Regions from separate parts of the Homo sapiens genome. Here region 2 is linked to region 1. The links come from fine-mapping of genetic effects on gene expression. A gene starts in region 1. The other region holds a variant in brackets. All regions are shown on one strand. Distances are from middle to middle. Region 1 holds the start of SIRPB1 (signal regulatory protein beta 1). Region 2 has its middle 4.7 kb from the start of NSFL1C.

Region 1 (4,397 bases):
GCTCAAATTAGGCATTCTGCAATGTACACATATTTCATTAATATGGTATACATGATAAGTATATACAGTTCTGTCAAATAAAAATAAAATATTTTGTTAAAAGTTTCATTGAAATTAGAAACTTGGAGAAACAATGATAAAAAATGAAATCTCCTGTGTGTGCATGTACACTTACTTATATGCATACATGCATATACATATGTATACACACATATGTATACACACATTTGCAAATATATATACACACACATATATGTATATATACACACACACACATATATATGTATATATAGACACACACATATACATTCACAAATATATATCAAAGTGTGACCTATTGTGATAGTATATAAGTTTGTTTTGTGTATTAAATAAAATTACAACACACGTTAAAATCTCATTAAAATATCTGGCCCATAGAAAGTAAAATATGTGGCCCATAGAAAGCATCCAACACATTAATAACAAATTTAGAAGTACATACATCACAGTTGTAACTCTGGTTGTTGCTAACAAGTGTGGTAGGCAATAATTAATTCTATGTTTACTTCCCTGCATTTTCTAATATTTCTGCTAGTAGCATAACACGACTAAAAGAATGAACTTTGGAGCCGGTCGACCTGGACTTGAATCTCAGCTGCTCCACTGACTGAGGTAGGGGACAATGAATGGACAAGTTCCTCCCTCTGCCTGAGTCTTTGTTTGGAAATAGGGGATAATAGTTGCAGCTTTCACACAGGGATGTTGTGAGGATTAGTGGAGCTAAAACAGGCAAAATGCTAATAACTGTGTCTACATGGTAGGAAGAGCTCAATTGTTAAACTCTTACTGCTGTCATTTGGGTACAGTGTATGTGTGAGAAAAATAATTTGAAAAGTGAGACCCCTGCCCTCTAGGGCCTGTGAGGTGACATCACAGCAGGGCCCAGTGGGGAATTGAGAGGCTGCTGTGCCCAGCCCTGTGGTTCTGGGGTCAGCTCCATGGCCTGAGAAGGGATCAGGACAGGTAACTTGTCTGGGAGCTGTGAGCAGGGTTCTCCCAGGCTGCACCAGGAAAGGCCCTCCAATCCTGCCTGTCTTGGGAAGGGGAAAGAAATTATCCATGGGAAATTTAAGAGAACCAAAGGAGGTTGTAGTACCTGTTATGGGCTGAATGTGTCCCACAAAATGCATGTGTTGAAGCTCTAATCCCCAGCACCTCTGAACGTTACAGTTTGGGAGACAGGGTCTTTAAGAAGTAATTTAGTTAAATGAGGTCATTGGGGTGGGCCTTAATACAACAAGACTGATATTCTCATAAGAAGAGGAGATGAGGACACAGACACACACAGAGGAAGATCATGTGTTTAAGACACAGAGAGAAAATGGCCCTGTATAAGCCAAGGAGAGAGACTTCAGTAGAAACTAACCCTGCTGACACCTTGATCTTGGACTTCAGCCTCCTTAACTGCAAGGAAGTAAATATCTGTAGTTTCAGCCACCCAGCCTGCAGTTCTTTGTTATGGAAGCCCTAGGAAAGGAATATAGGACCCAGTAAGCAGCAAATGTGGAACTTCTTAAAGAGGAAGAGGCCACAGAGAAATGGGTGGTAAGAATCAGGTCACAGGGGAGGGAGGAGCATGGGGGAACAGAGGACAAAGTGAGGAGCACCCTTAGGGAGGATGGTGGCTGAACACTCCCAGGATACACCACACCACTGCCCTACTCAAGTGAGCACTATTACAGACTTCACATCCTCAGTTTGGTGAAGAGAGAGGGCTGGGCCTAGAGCCACATAACCCTGTTAGGGTGTCTCTGAGCTTACTCTGTGGACTTGGGCATGTCACTTGGCCCTAGGGCCTCAGGACTGGTGAGGATTTAGATAATGATTCTTCTCTGCTTTTTCAATTGAAATATTATCAAAATGTAAGTAATTGTTGTTGTGGTGGTTGAATCGTCCTGTGGTTCAATGCCTCTGGTAGCCAGCTGCAGATCCACAGAGAAAGTGCTCAGCTCCCTGATTTTCTGCTCTCAGTCAAAGCCTAATCCTTGGCCTTTCTTGGCAGCACTTGTCATTGTCCGGAATCCCTGAAAGTCCAGGGACAGGCCATGGCTCAGTGGGCAGGAAAAAAGATTTTAACCGAAGGCAGTGCTCACCTGTGAGTCTCCCCAGCAGTAGCGTCATCAGCAGGAAAGGACTAGGAAGGTGGGGCCAGGAGGCTGGCACGGGCATTCTGGAGACCTTAGGAGCCTGCTCTGTCCAAACGTCTGTGCTGGGAAGATCGCAGACTCTGCTCTGAGGAGAGAAGACAAGCCCTGCCTCCCTTAGTTCAAGAGGAAGTGGCTGCGATGGAGTGAAGCAGTAACCTGCTTCTGGATTGTGAAACAGAAATCAGGAACAGCAAGCAGCTACAATGCAAGCAGTTATGCATGCCCCATTTCAGGAGAATCAGACAGGCTTAGCAGAAATAATGCTTCCTTCCCACCTGAGGTCTTAACTCCTTCCATGACTCCTAACCCCATCTTTATGTCTTCTTGGTGATTTGCCATTTGGTGCTCTTAAGCCAGGAAGGACCTGTGGTTATGAAATGTTTCCTAAACTTTCCATCTCAAGACCTCAGGATGTGGTTGGCTTGTGGTCTCATTCTACAACAGCCTCAACCAAGTGCTACTCAGTTGGGGCAGGATGAGGGATCACTGGACCTGCTCAGTGTTGGAGAGGAACAGGTCTGCTCTTGAAATGGTTCCCTATTCCGAACTTTTATAAATATAAATGGCAAAACTTAGCCCAAATTCAGTCTCATGTGGCCGTTAGCACTTTCATATGCCTGCACCCAGCAGAAGGAATTATTTCCTGACTTCTTCCAGGAGAGGAAGTGGGCTTAGGGTAATAAGGATCTGCTTTGTGAGGTGAGGTGGGGATTATGGGTTATGGAAAGGGGATATGTTTATTATGGGGGAGAATATGGAGGGCAGATTCCTGGAGCAGTCACATCGATTTCAATACTCTTTGCTCTGCACATAGAACACCTATTCCATTCATCACTGTCTTCAGATGGGAACTGAGGAGGGAGGGAGAATAAATACCCTAAGAAGATGTGCTAAGGAGTTGGGGAAGTTACTGGGCCTGCCTAGGTTCAGTTTTGCCTTCTAACCTTGGGATAATAAGTCTCACTGCCATGTTTTAGTGAACATCAAAAGAGATAATGACTATACATCCCTGAGATTCAGTAGGTTATTATTGATACTCATGGTGCCAGGTGAAGAGAGGGAACTCAAATATTGCTTTTAAATGGATTTCTACTGCATGCTGAGTTTCCCACCAGTGGCCTTCTCCCATGTTCCCCGGACTTCTGGAACCCAGCTTTTATGGTGTACTTGGTCTACCTCTGACACTCTGAGATCAATTTCTCCCTCTGGATCCTCTTCACCCTGCTTTTTGTCAATCTGTAGATGAATTCCTTTTCTTACAATCTCCAGCTGTGTGACTTTCAACAAGACACTTGACTTCTCTAAGCCTTAACTTAATTACATGTAAATGGAAGTTATAACATGCACCTTGTAGTGATATGGTAAGAGTAATATAAGCCATACAGAAGGTTTGATTCATATTTAATTATAACCAAAAAATTGTGGCTATAATTACATTTGTGTACAGGGTGAGTTCACTGCTTCCCTGACATACTTGTGCTTTAGAAAAATTTCCTTGGTAGGAGAAATGGTTTCTCCTCCATCATCTGTGACTAAGAAAGACCTGTCTGGAAACCTCTCTTTCCCATGCTGGGCTTGCAATCCTTCACCTATCATGAGTAATTGTCAAATGAAATTGTAAAAGTCATCACATTTCCATGCAAATTTCTTTTTCAATGTGGCAGATGCACAGAGGGTGAAATCATCACCTCCTGCTCCACACTCACAGAAATGAATATAAAAATGATAAAATCATGTTAATCGATGCCAAATTACACTTTAAAACAAGAAACTAGTCTCTATATGACATGAAGGGTAGTAGCTGCTGTGTTTACTGCAGATGTCCTGTGCTCCAGGTACTGTGCCAAGCATTTTGTCAGTTACCTCATTAATTCATCACTCTGGTCCCATGAAATTAGCACTACCATTAACCTTTTTTTATAGGTGAGGAAACTTGAGGCACGCAGGCAATAATACATTTGTTCAACATCACCCAGCTTTTAGAACTAGAACACAGGTTGTCACACTCCATGGCCTTCACTATGACACCTCTCATAAGAAGGGAGAGATATCTCTCAGGAAGGAAGCAGAGAAGAAGCCATAACGTCAATTAGGCGCAGCCTCCACAGCAAGGTTGGGATAGGTGCCATGTTCCATAAAGTGCTGACAGCCCATGATCACTCAGGGCATTATTCCTGTAAAGATTACAGTGAAAGCAGTAATCACTAA
Region 2 (4,333 bases), 150 kb before region 1:
ACCCACCCCGCCCCACTTTCCCTTCTAACTCCACCCTCAGTACTAAATGCACCCCACCCTCCAAAGCCCACTTTCACTCCATTTCACCCCCAGCCCCCTCCGGGCTCATCTCCATCTTCCTTCCCACTCCAGTCTCACCCCAGCCCCTCCCTTTAATCCTATCTTCCACCACCTCCCGCCCCACCCCAGCCTTCCTTTGGCACCCCCTCTGCCGTGTCCTCACTGGTGGTGACTTCACTTTGGGCAGGAGCTGTGTGTACCCAGGACTGGTGTCTCCTCTGACCCCCTACTCCAGTCCCCTAAGCGCTAAACCCTCTATAGCTTAGGGGGCCAGGGGAGCTGCTAGGTGGAGCAAATGATTGATTTCTCAGCTGACATTCAGACCTTCCAGAGGCCCCTATACATGGAAGCTGCCGGTACCACTCACCCTTCTCTACTACCTCAGCCTCAGCACTGCCTTCTTCTACCACTCTTCTTCACAAAAGGTGACAGAGCGAGACTCTGTCTCAAAAAAAAATAATAATAATAATAACAACACTACCACTGCCTCAGCAAAGTTGGGACTATTTGTCTCTCTTTTCACAACATCTTCAACTAATGACAATAATAATAAAATAACAGTACTGCCAGCCGGTGACTAATGCTTGGTTGCATTAGTCAGCAGTGAGAACCAATGAAAACTGCAATGAGATTCCCTTTTGCCTTATCCAACTGGTAAAACATTTACAAGTCTGACTGTTAGAGTAGGCAGATAGCCAGAAATAAGCAGGCAAGGGAGCGTTTGGGAAAAGAAGTCCTGGAGACTCCATTCACTGACAGTCAGCGCCACCCACTGGCGGCCAGCAAAGAGACAATGGCTACACTGGCAACTTCTGGCCTTGTGGTTGGGCTCCTCTGGCCCTAAAGGGGACTTATGAGGCCTTACCCAGAGATAACCATGGTAGGGACTTTCCCACTGACGAGCATGTGCACTCCTCCAGTAACTCGCCCTACAGTAGCCTTTTGCTCATTATAATAACAAGCCGGGCACAGTGGCTCATGCCTGTAATCCCAGCACTTTGAGTGGCCGAGGTGGGCGGATGACGAAGTCAGGAATTTGAGATCAGCCTGGCCAATATGGTGAAACCCCGTCTCTACTAAAAAAATACAAAAATTAGCCAGGCATGGTGGTGCGTGCCTGTAGTCCCAGCTACTCAGGAAGCTGAGGCAGGAGAATCGCTGGAACCCGGAAGGCAGAGATTGCAGTGAACTGAGATCACACCACTGCACTCCAGCCTAGGTGACAGAGCGAGACTCTGTCTCAAAAAATAATAATAATAACAACAAAACACACCCCTGAGTGGAGATTTTAAATGCTAATGAGACAGGCAATGTGTTTACTAGCGCGTACAAACACACAACATTCACAGCCAGGGGGACCACCTAAAACATGATTGTAAGTGACGCTCCCTCATGCCCCTGCACGAATAATCATGTAAGATTCTCATAAAGAGGGTCCCCCAGCACCAGCTGCTGCTGGCTCGTTCTTTCAGAGTGTACTGTCTCTTTAAATAAACACTGCTACTGCTGTTTTTTGCCTGATGCTGTTTTCCAGCCAGGTCAGCCCACTCCTTTCTAGGAACGTACTTTATCTTTCTTCAATAAACTCTGCTACTTCACCTTTGCTGTGTGTCTCTTGGCTGAAATCTTTCTTCCAAGCAGACAAGAACTGAAGATTCCCGCACTTCCCTGTAATGTGACCATAGGAAATATTGGCATAAGCCTGAAACAACAGGAATTTTCCTGTGTCTAACAGCAGTATATGTTGGCTTAATGGCATTGGGGCATGATTTGGCCAATCTAGTGGAGTTGAAGAAGCACAGAACCTGTATAACCCTCCAGTTCTACTTGTGGGTGTGTGCACTTGTGCATGCATCAGGAGACACAGTGAAACTGTCTCTGTTTGGGATAGCGAGAAACTGGAACAACTAAGGTCTCCATCCATCAACAGAAATCACAAATGTAATATGTTAATACAATGGAATACTATACAGTTCTGAAGATGAATGAATTAGAGTTACAGGTAACCAACCTGGATATAACTCAAATGTTGAGTCAGAAAGCAAGGTTGAGAATGATCTGTGTAGCAAAGTGCCATTAATCAGTGCCATTTAGATAGAATTTAGAAATGTGCTTGACTAGGCCTGGCATTCCCCACTTTCTCAGGCCAATGACATGTAGCTGCTCTCTGGGCGGTGTGTCTTGTGGAGAGGACGGACTATTCTTGACCTGGCTGGCACCT[C/T]CTCTCACTGCACCCCGATACCGCCACCCCAATACTGCATGCAGCAGGGCTGCCATCCTTGGGTTGTCAGGTTATAGGAAGCCCCTGTCAAATGGTGTTTGCTCCTTTTCTTCCTCCAGCTCTAGGTCTAACCTGCAGGGGGAAATGGAGGGTCCTCGAGCCCGAGGAGAGTGGCGTGAATAGACCTATCTCTCACAGGGAGCAGTCACAAAGTCTGGGACTTTGGCAGCCTTGATGGGGGTTCCTTGGGGCAGGAAGAGCATGGGACAAGAACCATGGGAAGGGAAGGAAAGAGCTAAAGAAGAGCTGCAGGAAGGAGAAAACAGAAGGGGAGGGAGAGAAACGGATGCCCTGATTCAGGGATCTTGGAGTGTAGTCACTGACATCAAGGCATCAGATCTGAAGGCCCAGGCAGGACATGTAATAGTGGCCTGTTGGCCCTTAGTGGGGGCTGTGGCATGCCCCCTGCTCTGTCTTTGGTGGGTCATCTCACCTGTGCAATGCCTGGGGCCCCAAAGCAGCAGAAGGGCTGGGCTGAGGAGTTCTGTCTCCCATCCATTCCCCACCCTTTCTATCTGTGGTCAGCAGGTTTCCCAGAGTCCCCACGAAGGGCCTTAAATTGTTCATCTTTTGTTATATTTGTCTTCTTTAGTGGACTTGCCTCCACCTTGCTCCCCTGCCATGTCCCTATAAGTCCCTGGATCCAAGCAGGGCCAACTTTCTATAGGATTTTACAACTGAGTCTGTGGTGAGTAGGGTCATCTGACTTCTGAAGTTGCCCGATAAGGGGCCCAGGCACTGTAGGCTGCCATGCTCCTTGTCATGGGGAGGATAGTGACTACAGTTTATAGTTAGAATTGCATAACAATAGCCTAATGAAATAATGTAACTATAATAATTATTTAGGGCTTCTTATGTGCCAGGTGCTGCACATATACCAATGCATTTTAGCCTCAAAACTACCTAATAAGGGAGACACGCATGTTATTACCAGTTTATAGACAAGGAAACTGAGAGAAACAAACTCACCCAAGAGATAAGTAGGAGAACTGGAATTTGAACCTGCACAGCCAGATTTCCGAGACTGTGTGCTTCATCTCTGCCATGTATGTAGTTCAGGCGTTTACGGGGTCTAATACAGGCCAGGCATTCTGCTTGGTGTTTGCTGTTCTTGTGCAAGTCAAGCACGCTCCTGCCTCAGGACCTTTGCATTCGCTGTTCCTTGTACTTTTCAGCTCTTCCCCTGGGTATCTGCAGGGCTCTCTTCCTCACCTCCTTCAGGTGTCTGCTCAAATGTCACTTTATCAGGAGGCCTCTTCTGTCCACCCTGCATAAAATAGTGTCACTTCCCCTTTGCTCTGGCAACTTCCTTCCCCCTCCTCCTGCGTTGTGAAGGCCCTCAGCACTCAGTATAGTGGGGCCTGTTACTCACCTAGGGTTACTTGCTCATTGTCTGTCTTCTCTCGGGAGGAGGTAAGCTCTGAGAGAGCAGACTTCTGTTTCTTTCTCAGCACACTGATTAGGGCCTGGCACAGAGTCAGCTTTCAACCACGTTTCAGGATTCAATGAGGGTGGCTACAATAGTGGACCATTAGGTTCCTGTCCCCAGGGAGCTCAAATTCTAGTGGGGACAACTAACAACCATCAAGGAAGCAGATACACAAACACACACGCACACACAGACACGCACACATGCACACACGCACACACACGCACACACACGTGCACACGCAGGCACACAGATGCACACATGCATGCACACACACCCACATAGGTGCACACACACATGCATGTGCGCTCACACACACACACCACACACATGTTTTCAGGTAGCAGTAAGTACTATGAAGAAAACTTAAGTGGCAAGCAGGAATGAGAGTGATGGAGGTGCTTTTTTGGATAGAGTGGTCCAGAGAGGCCTTTAAAGGTAAGAGTTAAGCAGAGACTTGAATGAATCAGGGAGCTTTGTGTGGTCAAAGTCCAGAGGGGTGCTGGAGAAGAGTCAGCTTACAGGATCTGGGGAGATGAGGTCAGAGGGGGTGGCAGGGACCA

What was found. PIP is the estimated chance that this variant, and not a neighbour inherited with it, causes the effect. A credible set is the group of variants that fine-mapping cannot tell apart.
Region 2: its variant is the best candidate, but not a certain one, in a credible set for the expression of SIRPB1 in whole blood (INTERVAL, PIP 0.67).

What each region holds. Positions count from the first base shown.
Region 1 is chr20:1,617,734-1,622,130 of GRCh38, forward strand. SIRPB1 (signal regulatory protein beta 1) reads right to left here and starts at 2,276. Exons shown (of 6, transcript NM_006065.5): 1 at 2,136-2,276. The coding sequence starts at 2,211.
Region 2 is chr20:1,469,405-1,473,737 of GRCh38, forward strand. It overlaps a transcript of SIRPB2 not described here. Among named protein-coding and RNA genes, the nearest start is that of NSFL1C, 4.7 kb to the left of the region's middle. The variant C/T (reference allele first, on the strand shown) is at 2,282.